Linked DNA regions of Homo sapiens: region 2 is linked to region 1. The links come from fine-mapping of genetic effects on gene expression. Tissue or cell type: whole blood. Region 1 holds a variant in brackets; the other region holds the start of a gene. Each region is shown on its reference strand, or each on the opposite one. Region 1 overlaps RIMS1 (regulating synaptic membrane exocytosis 1). Region 2 holds the start of CEACAM21 (CEA cell adhesion molecule 21).

Evidence for each region. PIP is the estimated chance that this variant, and not a neighbour inherited with it, causes the effect.
Region 2: CEACAM21 starts here. The variant in region 1 is fine-mapped to the expression of CEACAM21 in whole blood (TOPMed, PIP above 0.99).

Annotation. Positions count from the first base shown.
Region 1 is chr6:72,399,598-72,410,157 of GRCh38, forward strand. It overlaps RIMS1 (regulating synaptic membrane exocytosis 1), which reads left to right. Exons shown (of 34, transcript NM_014989.7): 34 at 899-3,548. The coding sequence ends at 1,117. Among named protein-coding and RNA genes, the nearest start is that of KCNQ5, 220 kb to the right of the region's middle. The variant G/T (reference allele first, on the strand shown) is at 5,418.
Region 2 is chr19:41,571,896-41,582,455 of GRCh38, forward strand. It overlaps CEACAM21 (CEA cell adhesion molecule 21), which reads left to right and starts at 4,271. Exons shown (of 7, transcript NM_001098506.4): 1 at 4,271-4,443; 2 at 5,305-5,664; 3 at 7,458-7,733. The coding sequence starts at 4,380.

The sequences.
Region 1 (10,560 bases):
CATTTCTAGGTGCTTATATACATTATTTAAATTTTGTAACTAACATGTGCAATAAGTATCATTATCCCCATTTTAAAGATTATGTCTGAGATTCAAGAGGTAAAGTAATTTCACAAAATTACTCAGTAAATTTTAAAGACATGATTCACCACCAACTCTGCTTGTGTAAAACAGGTGAATGAGTTCAGTTGAGAACCTTTACAGACGACTGAAGTATTAGAAAATAGAACCTGGGAGTATGTGAAATGGAAGGCTTGTCTGACACTAGTAGCCAATAGAAGTTGACCTAGATTGTGGTAATTTTTAATGATCTAATTGAAATATTAATCATCTAAATCAAAATTGGCAGGCAAGTCCTCAAAAGGTACCAGCTCACAATTATTTTTTGACCTACCCCTTCACTAAAAAGACCATAATACGAAAGAAATCAAATGAATACTCTCATTCTTTGTACATACTTTCTGGTACATACATTCCATGGTATACTGAGTTGGATTGCTCATCTTGCCCTCCTAAATTGCACAAATTTTAATTTTTAGATTTTTATGGTCCTGTACATCGCTAATTAGATAGTAGTTACACAAGAAAGGTGTTGCATTCATATAAAAATACTCTTATGTATTTATTTCTTTAACATGGCTTATGTAGCTAATACTCCTCATTGACTAGGAACACACAATCCTTCATTCCATCAGACTAAAATTATTGTGAAGTGTCTATGAGCACCTTAAGGTTAGTGTATCTTCTTATCTGTGCCTTCTCCTTGGTGATAGTTGTATTCATTATTCTTTTCCTCTGCTTCACTGACTGGCCCACTTTTACAGCATAGTTGCTTTGAGCCCTTCGAATGTGAAGCAGAGAGAAGTCCAGGTAATGTTGCATTTCTCTATCTCTGCAGGTGATTGTCTGGGGAGACTATGGCAGAATGGACCACAAATGCTTTATGGGTGTGGCTCAGATCTTGTTGGAAGAACTCGACCTGTCCAGCATGGTGATCGGATGGTACAAATTGTTCCCACCGTCCTCACTGGTGGATCCCACACTCACTCCCCTCACCCGGCGGGCTTCCCAGTCATCTCTGGAAAGTTCAACTGGGCCTCCCTGTATTCGATCATAGTGAACTCATACCAGAGTCATTCCAATAAAACTCTACTTTTCAGGATAATAATCTGAACCAGATATTTCATGATCGAAAGCATTGTTGGAGACAGACAATCAACTTGTGTTTTGCCTGTAGTAGTTTTTCAATAATATGTCCCAATTGTTATTTAAAACATGGCTTCATATGACAGAACAAGGCAATCTATCAAATTTACAGGAAGAATCAACATGCTGGTGAGAGTCACTGATGCTTCTAACAAATAGAAAAAGAGGAAACTTTAAATCCACGCATACACGTACACACACACATGCACACACACACACACCAAATTGAACAAACTGGAAACTCTCACTCTGTGAAAAGTTGTATTCTACACATTTCTGCACAGACCACAAGCAGTGTTATTTCCCTGATGTTTGAGTTGTTTTGTTCTTTTGTGTGTTTTGTTTATTTGTGTGTTGTTTGTTGGTTTTCGTTTCTTGAGTTTTTGTTTTGTTTTCACCACATCTGTTATTTCCACTAGTTTTTTTTTGGCTGTGTCATGACAGGCCTCATGATGCTAACAGAGATTCTTCCCTTCTTTTTTCCAAAAGCACCAAAAAAAAGGGCTGAAGTAGTCTCTGTAGCATCTCCCCAAAGTGTTAAACAGCTACATAAGGTGAAGCCAAGGAAGGGTTTCACTAGCTTTCATTTTATAATTATTTAAAGTCTTATGTGTGGATACCCAAGAGACAAAAAGTTATCTTCCAAAATAAATAATCACAGAAGTACTTTTTTAATGAAGAGCCTATCTGTTTGCATTCTAGAAAATTAATTTATGGTTTCCATTGTTTTGCATGGAAGACTTTTAAAGAAGTCAATCTGCAACTAATGCTGGGGACTAAAACTAACTGCATAATTGTACTTTGAAAACACTCCTTGTAATGCCTTTTTCTTCCTGATATTAAAAAAATGCTCATGTGTATAAACCATACTTTGACTTCCCAAAAATGGTGACTAGGAATGGATTTGAGCCTAAGACACTTTGAGCTATGCCCAGGCTTCTCAGCCATACCTCAGTGTAGACACATCCATCTGCCCTGGAAAGAGCATGGTATGAGCTGTTCAATATTCCACTGGAAATTCCAGTTGAAATATTCTGCACTAAACTATTGTTTTTATTGAATTTTAGTTTACATTTCTTTGAGATTGATGCAAGCACAAAGCTTGATTTTTTAATGCAAAGTATCTTACTTTTTGGGGGGAAAATAAACAAAATGAACTTTCAATTTGCATTTTCATTTAGTTTCTCTTGGCCTTGAATTTCCCTTGTGACATTCTGTACATGTGCTACAAACTGCAGTCTCTGCAGGTGCATTGATATGTTCTCCCTCCTTTTATGAGTCACTCCACTTTTGTGATTACACAAATAGAGCAGCATGACTTGGAACTGTTCAGAGCTGCATGCACATTTTGTAAAAAAAAAAAATTTTAAAAAGAAAAGAAACAAAAGGTTATTTAATAATGTATGTTAGTTCCACATAGGCCAGCTTGTATGTTGCATGTACTTGTACAGTTTGCTTGTTAATTACTATACCGAAATAACCAAGAAATCTAAGCCATCCACTTTTGTTATAGACATTTTGCAGGTTTTAGCCAGACTCAGTCTCTGGGTCTGTGGTGAAATGTCTATAGATGGACTTTATTTTTTACCCTCCGGAAAACGTGATGTAGTACGGACCAAATTCCTTCTAATAAATATTTTGGTGTAGATTCCTACTGTGGGGCTGTAACACATGTAGACACTGTGTACACACTAGGTTTTAATTCATAGACATACTGCCTGCACCAAGTGAATTATTTATTATTATTTACACATGCCAGAATTATCTGCCCATCATTCCACAGGGCACAGATTGACCACTGCTCACCATGCTGAGTAGGAGGAACTGAAGCATTGGTGCACTTCTACTAGATTCCGTTCTGTCTTAGTGGCCAACAATCAACTGATTATAATTGGGTAGTATCTTTCTATTTTGACCACTTGTCTTAACACTCCCCTGTGCTTTTAAATGAAATTCCAATTCATGTATGTAAACATGTTTAATAAAATTTACTTTTCATGTCAGTCAGTAGCCATATGTGTTCTATGTCTTGCCAGATTTCCATTGTGGGTTCTATGGTGCAAAATGGGAGCCAGGCCATGGGAAGGGGAGGCTGGGGTTTGTTGTCTGCTGCGGGCATTTGACTTGACTTGTCACTGCACTATATTATGTCTTAATCGATGGCCCAAAGGGTACTTTGCATCACATACAAGTTTTCACTTCGTCAGCCTGTCTAAGTGAGCACATGACTATACTTCTGAAAAGTGGCATTATTAAAAATAATAAATCTCAGTAAGAATCAAATGGAAGGTTGTTTTCTGCTGCTGTTTGAATGTGCTAATAAAAGAGACAACTCTATTGTCCAATTGCCAAATTATTTCAAGTTACGTGACATATCAAAAAATTGATTCCTGCGTCTCTCGTCATAGTATATTTCCTCTTTCCATCTTTTTCTTCTGAACCCATGACTAATTTATATAACTTTGGTTTAGAGGAGACCAATTTAACAAAAAATAAGCACTACATTTACACTGAATTATCTTTAATAGAATCTTAGATAATAAAAGTATCTTCAAATATAGATAGATATCCAAAATAATATATTCAAAGAGACATTATTAACTTTTTAGGTTATTTTATTATTTTTTCTTACCTGAAAGTGTGCTCATGTATTTAATAATCATCGCCTCTCATGAAACACTTGGTAAGCACTACTTTCATCTTGCATTGTAGTAAAATAACTTTTGTGATCTAGTCTTGTCTTTCTAAGAGCTCTTAACTTTTTATAGACCACGCTGGCTTTAACTTGTAAAGCAAAGTAAACACAGTTACATCAACATAAAATTTGAGGCAATAAAGAGTTTGGAGACATGAATGCATCAGTTATTTATAGTTTTTAAACAGTTGACTGAATTTTACCCTATTAAATCATCCATTTGTTTGGTCTACAAGACACAAGATTATCTGTTAGGCTGGGTCAGTAAGAGGCAAAAACAACTGGTCAGTTCAATTTAAAACAGTCAGATTTAAAGCTGTTTGATGCGCGTGCATTAAGAAAGCTCAGAGCTGGGTGAGGCCAGGAGAAAAGTCTGCCACTGAAACAGGTGATGAGAGTGGGCTTCAGAATTATTGTCTAGACAGAAGGAGAAGAGCAGTAATCTTGCTTCAAACCATATAAAGCTACCCGGTGTTGGGATTTCAGAGCCTACAGTCATGGGAGGAAGGAACCTGAGGAAAGGCAATTTTGCTAAGTCTTCATGGTTTCTTGCTGACTCTGACAACTTATTTCTTGAAATCCCAGCCCCATATGTATCCCAGATAATATATTATCTGATTATACTTAACCAACATTATTAAGAATTTTGTTAAGTACTAGGTATTAAGTACTTAGAATATAAAGTAGCCCTGTATTAAAGTAGCTCCCTGTGTATTGAAAGAGATCATTATATATATATAAAGAAATAATTATGATAGCATACAGTAAATCCTCAATGTCATTAAGTTCTGAGAAACTGTGACTTTAAGTAAAATGACATATTAAAAAAACTTTTTTTTTTCCTCTGTCAATGTTATCGAGGACCTGCTGTACATTGTTTCACTTAAAATCACAGTTTCCAAGATCAGGTGATTAAGTTAGTCCAAGTTAGGACTTACTGTATTTGATTTGTATACAAAGGCTATGGGATTATATTTACTCCCTCACAACAGTCCTATGAGGTAAGTATAGGACCCCTATTTCTCATAGGAGGCTCTGTAGCTTAGACAAGTGAAGCAACAAGCTAAGGTCACATATGCTGAGAGATGAACCAAAGTCTGACCAACTCGGGATCCTGCCATGCTAAGTGCTCTTTGTCCTCTACTAACTGCTGACAGTTAAGCTACATATTAAAGAATGAAGAGTTCACGAGGTGAGAAAAAATCCTAAGCTATTTCTCTGTGACGAGGCAGCTCCTGGCCAGCTTGGTCTCCCACAAGTTGCCTGAACGACTCTGCCTTACGATGGGGGTGGGGGATAGGAAAAGGAGGCAGGTGGGCTCTTCTCCATTCCCTGAAACCTCTTTGTAAGCCTCTCTCTCTCTCTCTCTGTCTCTCTCTCTCTCTCTCTTCCTCCCTCTCCCTCTCCCTGCTCTCTCTCCCCCCTCCCCTGACCACTCACCATTTGCACTATCAAACTTCATGAATACATAATATGCAGACTTCAGGAACAGTTTGAGTAAAGGAGATAGAACAAA[G/T]AATTATTCTTTAAATTTTCAAAAGTAGTTTTGTCTACCCTGCCTCCTCCGATTACCCCACCTGCTGCTCATTAATAACCCCAGTCTAGGTTGTCAGACCCAATAAAACAGGGGTCTCCAATCCCTGGGCCACGGACTGGTACTGGTCTGTGGCCTGTTAGGAACTGGGCCACACAGCCAGAGGTGAGCCAGGCAAGTGAGCTCTGCCTCCTGTCAGTTGGCAGCAGCAATAGATTCTCATAGGTGTGTGAACCCTGTTATGAACTGTACATGGGAGGGGTCTAGGTAGCGTGCTCCTTATGAGATTCTAATGCCTGATGATCTGTCACTGTCTCCCATCACCCCTAGATGGGACCATCTAGTTGCAGGAAAACAAGCTCAGGGCTTCACTGATTCTACATTATGGTGAGTTATATAATTATTTCATTACATATTATAATGTCATAATAGAAATAAAGTGCACAATAAATGTAACGCACTTGAATCATCCTGAAGCCATTCTCCCCCTGGGTCTATGGAAAAAACTGTCTTCCACAAAACCAGCCGCTGGTGCCAAAAAGGTTGGTGACTGCTGCTCTATAGCTCTTACCACAGAACTCCTTTAATTAAAGTATATACCTATCTTATCACATACTTGGTGGTCAATTGGTTTTTGTAAATGTAAATGTATTAGTTGGATTAAAAAAACCCACAATTGTCCCATCATCCCAGCAGAATCTCCTTTGGATCATCTTGATCCATGCCTAATGCTGAACAAATATCTCTGACCAGAAAAATGAAATACCTTGATAGACAGGCTTGTGTCAAGAGTCCAGCCCTGGATCTAGGAAATCCAGGCAGTTGCACCCAAACCACATAGAAAAGTTAGGGTAGTTCTCCCAAGGCAATATGGATGCTACTAGAAAAAAGAGAATGCTTCTGCCTTAGAGAAGGACATGTTGGGAAAGTTGTGTCTGCTCTAGATCCATTTTTTCTCTTCTCTCAAGACCTAGGAAAGGTGGGACAAAAATTCTCAAGATTGGCCACATCCAACCACACTCACTCTGATGACACTCATCTTCTCCTCTCTTCCAAATTATGGAGCCACTCATCTGGTGCCTTAAATATTTCTAAGACTCCAGACTGACATTTTGAGGAATATGGCATTATAATTATATCTATAGCACGCAGGAAGACATACGGCTAACATAAAATACACTAAAACATATCTGTTAAATGGAATAATAATAACACCTACCTCATACAATTATTTTGAGGATTAAAGTAAATAGTAAATATTACATTTTTAGGACAAAACCTGAATTCATAGTAAGTGGCTTAATAAATGTTAGCACCTATAACCATTATGCATAAACCTAACTTTGTGAAGTCTAAGTTAACCTTGTGAAGACTTCATATGAACACAAAACTCTTGGACAAATCTGGCCTTCATTTCCTGATCATTTATCTGATCCACCACCACTGATACAATGTCCCTTTCCAGTACTGGTAGATAAAAACAGAGGAGGATTTGTCGTCTGTTCAGGTGATAGGAGTGCTAATTTCAATAGCCCATATCACATAATGCTGTCTTCAGGCCATTCTGTGCATCTTTGTCTTCAGGCCATTCTGTGCATCTTCAGTAGGGCTGGTTGTTCCTTCCTTTTCTAGACCAACCTTTGCATTTAGTGAGCACCACCTCTTAGAAGCAGACAGAGAACACCCTCTCTGACCCAGCCCAACAGAACGAGTCTAGCTTTAGAAAATGTGCTTTCTAACCACCATTTTCAGTGCCATTTCCTGGATGATTTCATTAGCAAGCCTCACAATCTTTCTGTTCCAGAAATTCTCAGCCTCTCAAGGTTCTCTAACTGCCTTCTGCAATGCAAGGTTCCCAACCTATTCTCTACCTGCAAATCTGCTCCCATATCACTGAATTCTCCCCAATTTCTCCAGGAGCAGAGGAACTGAGTCGTTTCACTGAAATTACCACCTTTTTCTTTCTCCTTTTCTGTATAGTCAGTCTAGGTTCTCTCTTCAGATGCTGGATCATCTCTTTCATCCTCCTTTGCATGTACTTTAATTCTATCACTCCTTTCCCTATTTATGTCCCGCAACATGCAACTGCGGCTTTTCTGATTATGTGTGTTATCTTATCTATTCATTCCTCTGCATTTTCCAAGTTCTATCAATACATAAAATCATCAGAAACCACACGCCTACATCACTCTAGCTTGTTCCTGCCATCATGTTCACTCCACCCTAAATTCATGTTTTTTCCTAATGTTTTGCCTTTGGTTTTCATTGAGTGTTTATTAAAGATGCTTCTTGCATTGGCTATGCGTTTCTGTCAACTATTTTTTCCAGTATGTCACTGAATACTTTTTGCAAATATTTTTGTATGATTGTTTTACATTTTATTATTTAGTGTCTGCAAAAAGAATTTTTTTCTACTGAGTGGTTGTGTTTTCTTCTACTATAGAGTTCTTTTTTAAGACAAAATATACTATTCTTTATTTTTATCATAGAACAGGCATTTTCAGTCTGTTAAAAAGTATGGAATGGGATCAAGTGTAATTTTAGAGGCTTCTCATGTTTCTTTTTTTATTCCAACTTTTATTACAAGTTAAAGGGTACATGTGCAGGTTTATTACATGGATAAACTGCATGACACTGAGGCTTGAGGTGTCAGCAATCTCATTACCCAGGCTGTAAACATAGCACCCAACAAATGGCTTTTCAGCCCATGGCCCCTCCCTCCCCTCACTAGTGATCTCAGTGTCTATTGTTCCCATCTTTATGTTCATGTGTATTCAGTGTTTAGTTCCCACTTATAAGCGAGAACATGCAGTATTTGGTTTTCTGTTCTTGCCTTAGGTCACTTAGGATAATGGCTTCCAGCTCCATCCATATTGCTGCAAAGAGCATGATTTCATTCTGTTTTATGGCTGCATAGTATTCCATCATGGTGTATATGTACCACATTTTCTTTATCCAATCCACTGCTGTTGGGCACTTAGGTTGATTCCATTGTCCTTGCTATTTTGAATAGTGCTGCAATGAACATATGGGTGGATGTGTCTGTTTTGATAGAATGAATTCTTTTCCCTTGGGTATATACCGAGGAGTGGGATTGCTTCTACCATAGGGCACTTAACTTTTCATATGCTTTGGTTCCCTTTGGTGCCTGGTGATACCTATAGACTCCTTCTCAGAATAATGAAGTTAAACTCCTTTAAAAAGTACATAGGAGGAAAATGAAGCCAATTATATTGAAAGAGTTAAAAACATTTTAACAACAAATTTTTGGTCTGGCGTGGTGGCTCACACCTGTAATCCCAACACTTAGGGAGGCTGAAGCGCGCGGATACTTGAGCCCAGGAGTTTTGAGAGACCAGCCTGGGCAATATGGCAAAAACCCATCTCTACAAAAAAAATAAATAAATAAAAATTTTAAAAAAAGCCAGGCACGATGGCACACACCTGTAGTCCTAGCTACTTGAGAGGCTGAGGCTTGCAGATTGATTGAGCCTGGGAGGGAGAGGCTGCAGTGAGCCTTTGTCACACCACTGCACTCCAGTCTGAGTGACAGTGAGACCCTGTCTCAAAAAACAAAATAAAACAAAAATTTGTCATCTAGCAATACATATGACTTCTTTACTGAGGTATTAAAAGAAATCTAGTGACAGGTCCAATAACTACAGTGTTTTTGAAGCTGTGATGAGCATAAATACTAGTTGATATTATGAATATGTGTGATTCTGTACTGACAGCAAGGTCACAGGTACTACTATGCTATTGTGGTTTCTTACCTACAGTGATAAATGAAAGAAATTTTAAATTACAATTAGAGATTAGAAAAAAGAAAAGATGCACTTTTTTCTCTTTTAGTTCACAGACTTCCTGAACTCCTGCCTGGGACTATTGCAGGAATAGTATAATAACCCATTATACGAGTTTAATTTACCCTGTCTCTCCAGGACTTTGTAAAACAATTATACTCTCACATCAATCATAAAAGAATTCACAGCTAGTATGTATTTTTTCTTTTTATGATTTATTCCAATAATGTTATTATGAAACAGCTTCTTGAAACTCTTTGTAAATCCCTTTGAAATAATTCAAGTTAAAAATAATGACATAAACAAGTAGCTTAGTGTATGGCACAGGGACTGTACACAAACACAAGATGGTAGAATGAATGCACAACACAGAAACTGAGGACTCCACATTGTTCTGGATCACTGCTGTTCAGTCTACAAAAACTCAATCTCCTTTTCATAAATCCCAAAGTTTCACCTCCAACTCCCAAAACAGCTAGTTATAATGCTAAAGGGATCCATAGCTATTTCTTCAGTTGAGAATCAAAATAAAGTCTATGATTTTGTTGCCCCTAGCCAGGATTTTCTTTCATGCTAGCTTGTATTCTAAAAACAACACTTTTGTTTTGTGTGGCTTCTGCTTTTCTTTGGTCTAATTTCACCATCTGACATAGTTTGGATGTCCCCTCCAAATCTCATGTTGAGATGTAATCCCCAGTGTAGGAGGTGGGGCCTGCAGGGAGCTGCTTGGGTCATGGGGATGGATCCCTCCTGGCTTAGTGACGTCCCCACCACAAAGAGTGAGTTCTCAGGAGATCTGGTCCTTTAAAAGTGTGGGGCACCTCCCCCTGCCCTTGCTCCTGTTTTCCCCATACGAAGTACCAGCTCCCACTTTGCCTCCCACCATGAGTAAAAGCTCCCTGAGTCCTCCCAAGAAGCAAGCAGATGCCTGCACCATGCTGCCTGTACAGTCTGCCGAACCGTGAGCCAATTAAGTGTCTTTTCTTTATAAATTACCCAGTCTCAGGTATTTCTTTATAGGAATGCAAGAATGACCTAACACGGTATTATATCAAATATATTGTTTGATTTCTCAACCATGTACACTAAGGTGGAGACTTCTACACTGGAAGTATAATAATTGGGCTCAATAAAATTGCAAGTAACCAATATGAAGTGCTCTATGACACACAAATTAAAAAAAAAAACACTCCTATTTGAAGGTTTTTTTTCTAAATCATAGCAACAGTAAATTTTAAAATTACAAATTAATTTTGACTTTATAAATCCACCACCTGTATTTCTGGCAGTTAAACTATTGGAGTCCCCTTTTCCTTGGGGTT
Region 2 (10,560 bases), not on the chromosome of region 1:
TGTTGCCCACTCTTGGATTTGATCTTTAAGTTACTGACTTTAAAGCATTTTGACACTTTTTTTTTTTTTTGGTAGTCAGAAGCTTTCCACCTCCTTGGGAAAAGTGATTCTCTACTCTATGTACAGGAATAACCAGTAGAAATAGAGAAAAAATGCATTAATATTCAGAAAGAAGATGATCTCTATGTGAACAAATGAAAGCTTAAAATCATCAGAGTCAACATAAAATCAACATTGCCAGTGCTAAAACTACAAAAGTGACATTAACGGTGAACTAGAAGAATAAAACAAGCATTACAGTTGCTGGTAAACCTAAATCACTTATTTTTTTAAAAGACCATTCTGGTATATTGCAATGATGACAGGAGTGCCCTTCAGTCAATATGATGCCTGTAATTTTTGTGACCTGGCAAGATATACTGTCCCTTCTCCTTTTAAATCTCAAATGCAAAATGAGAGGCAACTCCTGGGTCACCCCCTCCCAGAGCAAACTGCCTGCAAGCAGCCCCTGGAAGAGCAGAGGCCCTAGTTTCCCTGATCCTCAAGGCAGGAGCGATGGGAAGCTCCCTGTAAGCCGGGGGAGAGCTTTGTTCCCAGAATGTTCCTCCTCTTCCCAGAGGCACCAACCCCGATGCCCTGACACTTACCTTCTGCTCTCTCGCCCAATGTTCACTCAAATATTGAGTGCTTGGTGAGTCTGCAGAGCTCAGGAACTTCTGGGAGCCAAATCACCACCAGCTCCTCCAGAAAAGATACCTGTGCACACCCAAAACCACCCCACTGAGCCCTGCCTGGGGTCTGTACCACATCCAGCATGTGCACTGTGAGCATAGAATCCGGCCCTGAATTCATGACCACCCACCAACATGCCCCCAACTGAAACCAGCAAATTCCCACACATGGCAAGCACTGAGGCTTGGAGGTGCTTTCTCACGAGGTGGTTCTGCTTCCACCATGGGGTGGTTGTCACTGACACTGGAAGTTGCTCAGCACCTGATAGTGGTGCAGGACTCAGGGACCCTCAACATCAATCTGGTGAAGGCAGATGGGGCCCCTCCAGATCTTCTCCCACCTGCAGGTGCCCAGCTCAGTAAGACCCCAACCCTGGGAGGAGGATCCAGACCCCTGTGCCAGGTAGACCAAGCTTGAGGCCTCAGGCAATGAGAGAGAAGGAGATGGAGGTCTGACCAGGAGCTGCTCTTCCTTGAGAGCCCGGGTCCCTTCCTTGTGCAAAGGCTTGGCTTATGAACAGAATCCTCAATCTGTAGTGACAGTGCCTAAGAGGATGACATGGACTCCGGCCTGATGTGCAGCCGTCCCTGTCTAACCCCTCCCTGCTGCAGGACAGCACCAGCCCAGGAGAGGAATCCTCAGTTGGGGAGCCAGTAAGAACATGGAATACTCGGGGCCTCTTACCTTCCTCCAGTCCACAGCAGCAGCCACCGTTTGTGCCTAGGACACCCACCTGCTGGCCCTTCTGACCCTTACAGTCAGGCCTTCCAGATGCCACTCCTGACTCAAGGCCCAGCTACTTTCACCCTGCTGAGCCCTGCTCCTCCCAACCAGGGTCACTGCCTTGCTAAGCACCTCCTCCAGCTCCAGCTGACTGGTCACCCAACACCCAAACCCCAGAGGACAAACAAGAAAATAAACAGATATGAAGTCTGAAGGAGATGCAGGCTATGAAGACAAATAAAAGAGTAAGCATGAATATAACTCCACCAACAAAATTGTTTCCCAAAACAAAATCTTCTGTGCCCATGATCATGGAACTAATTGTCCCTCACTATGTAGGCAAGCACTTCCAGGGTCTCTCAATTATTTCATGGGTGTCAATATACACTGTAACATAGCAACTCAGAAAAGAAAGTGGGAATAATTTATCTACTTAGATTAAGGTCCTAAAAAGGTCTCCAGACTGCCAAAAAAGGAGAGCTGAACCACTCCTGCTTTGAGAACCATTGAACTACATCTTTTTTAAAAGTCACCCCAGAATGGCCAAAACAATCTGGAAAAAAAAATTGGAGGACTCACTTCCTAATTTGAAAACTTACTAAAACACTACAATCATTAAAACAGTGTGCTTCTGGCACAAGAATGCACATAGAGATCAATGGAATAGAATCAAGAGTCCAGAAATAAACCCTCACCATTACAGCCCATTGGTTTTTGACATGGGTGCCAAGATTCCTCAATGGGGAAAGAATGGTAGCCTCTTCATATTGTGCTGGAACAACTGGATAACCACATGCGAGATAGTGTAGTTAGACCCCTACCTCACAGCCCATACAAAAGTTAACTCAAAATGTTTCAAAAACCTAAATGGAATAGCAAAACTTATCAAACCATTAGAAGAACATATAGGAGTAAAACTTAATGATCTTGGATTGGGCAATGGTTTCTTCAATATGACATCAAGAGCATAAGTAACAAAATTAAAAATAGATAAGTGAACTTCATCAAAGTTAAAAATGTTTGTGCTTCAAAGAACACCATGAAGAAAGTGAGAAGACACAGAATATGAGAAAAATTTTGCAAATCATGTACCCCATAAGGGACTTGTATCTAAAATATATAAAGAACTATTACAACTGAATAATAAAAAGATAACCCATTTTTTTTAAACAGCAAATGATTTGAATAAATAGTTCTCTAAAAAATATTAAAATTGTCAGCAAATACATGAAAAAATGCTCAACTTCATCAGCCACCAGGGAAATGAAAATCAAAACTGCAATGAGCTATCACTTCACACCTACTAGAATGGCTATAAGTTTTAAAAAATATTAAATAGTAAGTGTTTACAAGAATGTAGAGAAAATGGAACCCTCGTATATTGCTGATGGGAATATAAAATAGCACAGCAAACTGGAAAACAGTTTGGCTGTTTCTCAAAAACTTAAACATAGAACTACCACATGACCCCATATTTATACTCCTATATGTACCCCCAAAGAAATGAACACAGAAACCCAAACAGATACTTCCAAGTGTAAGTTCATTGCAGCGGTTTTCACAATAGCAAAAATGTGGAAACCACCCACATGTCCATTAAGAGATGAATGAATTAAAATTGAGGTATAAACATATATTGGGATATTACTCAGCCATAAATAGGAAAGAAGCTGTAATATATGCTACGACGTGGATGAATCTTAAAAGTGTTACCCTAAGAGAAATAATCCAGAAAAAAATAATACACGTATATAATTCCTTATTATATGAGACATGTAAACTAGGCAAATTCACAGAGATTGATAGTATCAGAGGCTACCAGTGGGTGGGGCAGGGGGAAGTGGGGAGTTATTGATTAAAAGTATGAAGTTTCCATTTGGTATAATGAAGATTTTCTGGTAAAAAATTATGGTGATGGTTGTACAACATTGTGAATAGAATTAGTATCATTTAATTCTACACTTAAAATTGCTAATTCAGTACATTTATCTTATGTATTATACCATATCTAAAGAGATCTTTGGGAAACAAACACTCGCCCTGATCAGATAGTCCTCATACTCATGTACACACCCTTCCTGACCTTCTGTAAAAAGGGATACAAAGATTTAGGGACATGAGACAGTTCAGGCAACTGCAGATCCACAAAATATATGTATTTGCAAAGAGAATGAGAGTTAAGCTGGGGGCACAGACCCCAGACACGGAGAGGGTCCCCCTGAAACCTTCACCAAGGACAGCAGAACCCAGAGCCTCCCACCTCCTTCCATCAAAGTCCTCTCTTCCCAGGACACACAGGACACCTCCCTCCACACCTAGGAGCTGGGGATCCTCCCGAGACCTCCAGGCCTGGGTCTCTGTCCCTGGGTCAGAGGCCAGGCTGGTGACACTGAAGATAGCGGGTGGGTCCTTCCCAGCCATCACCCAGTGAGCCCCTTTCTAGCCCCCAGAGCCACCTCTGTCACTTTCCTGCTGGGCATCATTCTGCCTTCCTGGAGCACTGGAGAGCATGAGGAGACCCAGGGCCCAGCTGGTTTTGTGTGTCACAAAGGGAAATAATCTACCGGCTGTGACAGAACCAAGGCCAGAACACAGCAGAGGTCAGTACTGGGGAGAGTGGGTCGTCCTGTTATGAGGACCCCATCAGCGTTGCTTCTCAAAGTTTTGCCTAGGGAACCAAATATAGGCAAAAAGGAAGGAGAAAGGAGGGACAAGGGAGGCAGGACTGAGAGGGGAGGGGACAGAGAGACATTGTAGGCAGAGCCCCGCCCTTGCCCATAAACGGGAAGTGCTCCTGCCTGAGAGGAAGCTCAGCATAGAGGAAGGAAGGACAGCAGAGACAACAGTCACAGTAACCCTGTCTAGAGCGTTCCTGGAGCCCAAGCTCCTCTCCACAGAGGAGGACAGAGCAGGCAGCAGAGACCATGGGGCCCCCCTCAGCTTGTCCCCACAGAGAATGCATCCCCTGGCAGGGGCTCTTGCTCACAGGTGAGGGGAGGACTCCCTGGGAGTGGGTGGGAGGAGGGAGCACAGAGACTGGCTGGGGTCTCCTGGGGAGGATGGGGCTCTGAGAGGAGACAGAGGGCTTTTGTTAGAGACTCAGGGGAGAGAGCGTCTAAGGAGAACCAAAAAATCTAAGTGAACTGGAATTGCCAAGGGGCAAAACAATCTCAGTTGGTCCATGTTTTCAAGTTCATTGTCAGTGGCCACTACACTTTGAAAATGATAGTAAAACTATATCACAGTGACAATTTAAATAAAAACACCACCAGGGCATGAAACTCTGTCTTCATCTGCCAACCTCAGACATTAGCAAATAAACCCCAGGATATGGAAGGCCCTGGGAACGCTCATGAACTCATCCACAGGAGTCTGCAGCCTGTCCCAGGCACTGGGGTGCAACTAACATCACTCAAGTCCATGCCCTCACAGAGCTCACAATCTCATGGGGGGGAAGACAGACACCCAAAGAGATCTAGAATGTGAGGTCAGGTGCTGACAAGAGCCCTGGAGGGAACAGAGCTGGGAAAGGTCAGAAAGGGAAGACCCAGGGTCTCTAGAGGAGGCTTCACGAAAGAAGTCTCCCAGGGATTCCCTTGTGTGAGTAGGAACTGAAGGCAGTGGGGAGGGAACCATGCAGACCCCTGGGAAAGAGGGTTCACACAAGGAAATGCCAAGGTCAGAGGTACTGAAGGAATGAGGGTCATGCTGCTGACTTTGACCCAGTAGGACACACACACACACACACACCCTCTAAGGCTGAGGGGTGAAGAGACCTGCACCCAGGACCCCGTCTTTCCATGCCAATGCATAGGTCAAATATTGACTGATATTCTCTCCCTTTCCTAGCCTCACTTTTAACTTTCTGGAACGCACCCACCACTGCCTGGCTCTTTATTGCATCAGCGCCCTTTGAAGTTGCTGAAGGGGAGAATGTTCATCTCTCTGTGGTTTATCTGCCCGAGAATCTTTACAGCTATGGCTGGTACAAAGGGAAAACGGTGGAGCCCAACCAGCTAATCGCAGCATATGTAATAGACACTCACGTTAGGACTCCAGGGCCTGCATACAGCGGTCGAGAGACAATATCACCCAGTGGAGATCTGCATTTCCAGAACGTCACCCTAGAGGACACGGGATACTACAACCTACAAGTCACATACAGAAATTCTCAGATTGAACAGGCATCTCACCATCTCCGTGTATACGGTGAGTGATTCCTCCGTGCCTCTGGGTGTTGGGGGTCAGTTCTGCTTCACATACGCAGGATTGTCAGGCCTGGGCTGTGCCTGCATCCCCCTCTGCATTACGTCCCATGTTGGGGTTTGGGCATTTAGTGCAGGACACACCCAGGGGAGACAAACTATAACAGATCAGAATTCCTTTCCCTTATCCGGACTCCGTGGAAATTCCCTACAGCAAGAAGGATAGTCTGATGCGGGAGATGCAGCGGGGGAAAATCAGTCTCAGTCCAACCCCCCTTGGCCTCCTCCTCATAGACATGACCTGAGAAAGATCTTATAGGACTCAGTCAGGGCCTGGCCTGAGGATCCTCTGAGAGAAGCTCAGCCCTTGAAGCCCCTGCCCCAGGCCCCTGTCCCAAGATCCTGACTCCAGATGACCCTGGGGAGCCTGTGCCAGGGCTGGGTTGTGGCTTCCTGGGCAGGGCTGATTGTGAGCAAGGATTTACCAGCTGTCCCAGGGCCGTGGTTCCTAGAGCTGGTCACCAGGCAGGGCTCAGCCCCCAGAGCCCCATCTGGGCAAGGGCAGAGCCTCATCTTTCACCTGAGAGTCAGAGTGGAGAGGACAGACAAACAAACTTCCCAGGCCATTAAACTGGATGGGAAACTTAAAAGATGTCCCGGGAAGTGCACTGTCCTCAGGAGGAGGGAAAGCAGAGAAAAGACACTCTGGACCGCTCCTTCTCCACCAGGAATCAGGCCCAGAGAACTCTTTTTTTTTTTTTTTGGAGTAAAATAATAATAGATGATGTTTATTTGGAGCTATTCTGTGCCAAGCTTTAGGTCAGGTAATTGTAAATATTTTAATGTTAATTTACAGAGAGGATGGCAAGCCAGGGACCATTGACATGTACCCCATTTTATTAAAGAGAAATTGCATCAGCATCACACAGGCTGTCAGTGCTCAACGTCACACCACCGTGTGTCTGCAGCCCAGAATCTGGTCGTGGCCACCACCGTGGGGCATCTGTGGACCCCAGGACCAGATGTTGGTTCAGCTCCTTTCTTCTTGGGCATCCTCAGCTCAGAGAGGGAGATTCTGGTCTGAGGAATGACGGGCAAATGGAGAATTAGTCAGTTTTTACTTAGAACGAAATCACCTGTCTCAACTATCAGACTCAATGCCAGGATTGTCCAAGCCTCTCCCATCAGATCCACATTCCTTCCCTCACTGGACGTGAAATCATGAATTTCTTGATTTGTTGATGTCACTCCCATGGGAGGATGAAGGAAAGGACTCAGCTTTCTCTTCCCACTACACCCTGTACCTGCACAAGGCCCAACTGAGACACACACTCAGTAGTTCTCTGATGAAGGAGGGAGGGAATTAATGAAAAAAGAAAGGAATAATCATAACCTCTTTACAGACTGGGTCCTGGATGTAGGATCCTAGGAGGAGCTGGCCACACCTCTTCCTTGTCCCTTAGGGGCTGAGACCCATGTTCCATTTCTCTGACTGCCTGCTCCTAAAGCCACCCCAGGTATTGCATCTCATGTGACTCTGGGGCCGCTCATCTGTGGGAGGGTTTTCAGGGCTCCCTGGTCCTGGTCTGAGGCAGCTGGGTCCTCCTGGTCCCTGGGGTCTCTGAGGTCACTGTAGTCCCTACTGCTCGCTGCTATGGGTGTCTCTGGTTCTCTCTGCTCCTCCCTGTCCTTCATCTTTCTCCTTTATTCACAGGAGAATGTTCTAAATTTGACTCTGAGATCTCTGAGGATGCAGCATGGCCCCAAGACACTTTCTGTTGGTCACTCTATCCACAGAGTCAGTGGCTCAGCCCTCCATCCAAGCCAGCAGCACCACAGTCACAGAGAAGGGCTCCGTGGTCCTGACCTGCCACACAAATAACACTGGAACCTCTTTCCAGTGGATTTTCAACAACCAGCGTCTGCAGGTCACGAAGAGGATGAAGCTGTCCTGGTTTAACCATGTGCTCACCATAGACCCCATCAGGCAGGAGGACGCTGGGGAGTATCAGTGTGAGGTCTCCAACCCAGTCAGCTCCAACAGGAGCGACCCCCTCAAGCTGACTGTAAAATGTGAGTGACCCTCGGCCCCTCTCACTCCTTTCCTTGTATATTTTCCTAGGAGGGAGGGGGGGTGTAAAATGATACACGGAATGAGAAGGATGAGATTCCTTCAGAGCCTGGGGAGCAATGTGGGTAAGAACTCAGGGATTAGACTCATCCAGTTATCATCCTGGTTACAATAGGTACCAGGTATTTGACCTTGGGCAAGACACTCAACCTCCTGGGCCTCAGTTTCCTCATCTGTAGAATTGTTACAAACACCTGGACCTCAGGGTGGTTGTGAGGATATTTATTCAGAGATTAATGCGATTAAAGCCCTTAACAAGGTCATGCACAGAGCCAGGGCTCAATCAGTGCTATCAATATCGACTGGTATTATTTTTATGAACTTTGTTGTTATTAGCTGTTAAGTTGAGCAGACTTTGGTTACATTTTTGTTGTATCACTTTCACTTACCAGTTCTGTAATCTTAATTGAAGTACTGAATCTTAATTGAAGTACTGAATCTTAATTGAAGTACTGAATTGAAGTACTTCAATCTTAATTGAAGTACTGAAACTATAAGTTTCAGATTCTAAATTGGCAGATGGGATTCCACCCTGTTTGGAAAAACTCAAACTGTGTTTTTCCTCTGCTCTCACTCCACAATAACAATCATCAACACAGACACACTTCTGTGACCAAATGTGATGGGGGGGGGTTTCTCCCACACACCCAGCAGCCAATCAGTTCTGCACCGTACATCAGCTAGGTGTCCTCCAATTCCATCCTGACACTATCTACCTGGACATATCAGCAGAGGGCTCAGTCCCACAAAATTGCCACCACCTTCCCACCAGTCACAAGTCTGGGCCTCCAGAGCTTCTTATGACTGGCTTCACATTGAGGTTTCCATGACTCCCTGTTTGGGTTGGATTAGTTTGCTCAAACAGCTCTCAGGACTCAGGGAAACACATACTTAGGCTTACCGGTTTGTAATAAAGGACTTTACAAAGGATGCAGATGAAGAGATGCACAGAGCATGGCATGTGGGAAGGGGTGTGGAGCTTCCATGCCCTCCCCAGATGCACCACACTCCAGAAACTTCCATGGGTTCAGCTCTTCAAACCCAGTCCTTTTGGGGTTCATGACATAGATATGATTGATTTAATCATTGGCCATTAATTGATTCAATCATTGGCCATTAATTGATTCATTGGTCATTGGTGATTAATTCAAACTCCAGGTCCCTCCCCAGGGATTAGGGGTGAGGCTGAAAGTCCCAACCCTCTAATCCTACCTGGGTCAGTGACCAGCCTCATTCTGAAGTTGCCTAGGGGCTGCCAGTCATCAGTCAATTATTAGCTTGAAAAAGACATCACTTTGAAGATTCTAAGGACTTTAGAGTCACATACCAGAAAATGGGTGTATTAGTCTGTTGGGAGCAAGCCCCCCAAAATCTGGCCATAAACTGGCCCCAAAACTGGTCATAAACAAAATCTCTGCAGCACTGTAACATGTTCATAATGGCCCTAATGCCCAAGCTGGAAGGTTATGGGTTTACAGGAATGAGGGCAAGGAATACCTGTCCCACCCAGGGTGGAAAACCGCTTAAAGGCGTTCTTAAGCCACAAACAATAGCATGAGCAATCTGCATCTTAAGGGCGTGTTCCTGTTGCAGTTAACTAGCCCAACCTATTCCTTTAATTCGGCCCATCCCTTGGTTTCCCATAAGGGATACTTTTAGTTAATTTAATATCTATAGAAACAATGCTAATGACTGGTTTGCTGTTATTAAATATGTGGGTAAATCTCTGTTTGGGGCTCTCAGCTCTGAAGCCTGTGAGAACCCTGATTTCCCACTTCACACCTCTATATTTCTATGTGTGTCTTTAATTCCTCTAGCACTGCTGGGTTAGGATCTCCGCGACCGAGCTGGTCTTGGCTGCTGATAAAGACATACCTGAGACTGGGTAATTTTTTTAAAAATGAGGTTTAATTGACTTACAGTTCCACATAGCTGGGGAGGCCTTGAAATCATGGCAGAAGGCAAAAGGCATGTCTTACATGGCGGCAGGCAAGAGGGCATGTGTAGAGGAACTCCCCTTTCTAAAACCATCAGATCTTGTGAGACTTATTCACTATCATGAGAACAGCATGGGAAGAATCCACCCCCATGATTCAATTACCTCCCACTGGGTCCTTCCCCCAACACGTGGGGATTATTAAAATTCAAGGTGATATTTGGGTGAAGAAGAGCCAAACCATGTCATTCCACCCGACCCCTCCCAAATCTCATGTCCTCACATTTCAAAACTAATCATGCCTTCCAACAGTTCCCCAAAGTCTTAACTCATTCCAGCATTAACCCAAAAGTCCAAGTCCAAAGTTTCATCTGAGACAAGGCAAGTCCCTTCCACCTATAAGCCTGTAAAATCAAAAGCAAGCTTAGTTACTTCCTAGATATAATGGGTGTACAGGCACTGGGTAAATACAACCATTCCAAATGGGAGAAACTGGCCAAAACAAAGGGGCTACAGGCCCCATGCAAGCCCAAAATCCAGCAGGGCAGCCAAATCTTAATGCTCTGAAATGATCTCCTTTGTATCCATGTCTCACATCCAGGTCACACTGATGCAAGAGCTGAACTCCCATAGCCTTGGGCTCCACCCCTGTGGCTTTGCAGGGTACAGCCCCACTCCTGGCTGCTTTCATAGGCTGGCGTTGAGTGTCTGCAGCTTTTCTAGGTGCATGGTGCAAGCTGTTAGTGGATCTACCATTCTGGGGTCTGGAGGATTGTGGTCTTCTTCTCACAGCTCCATTAGGCAGTGCCCCAGTAGGGACTCTGTGTCGGGGT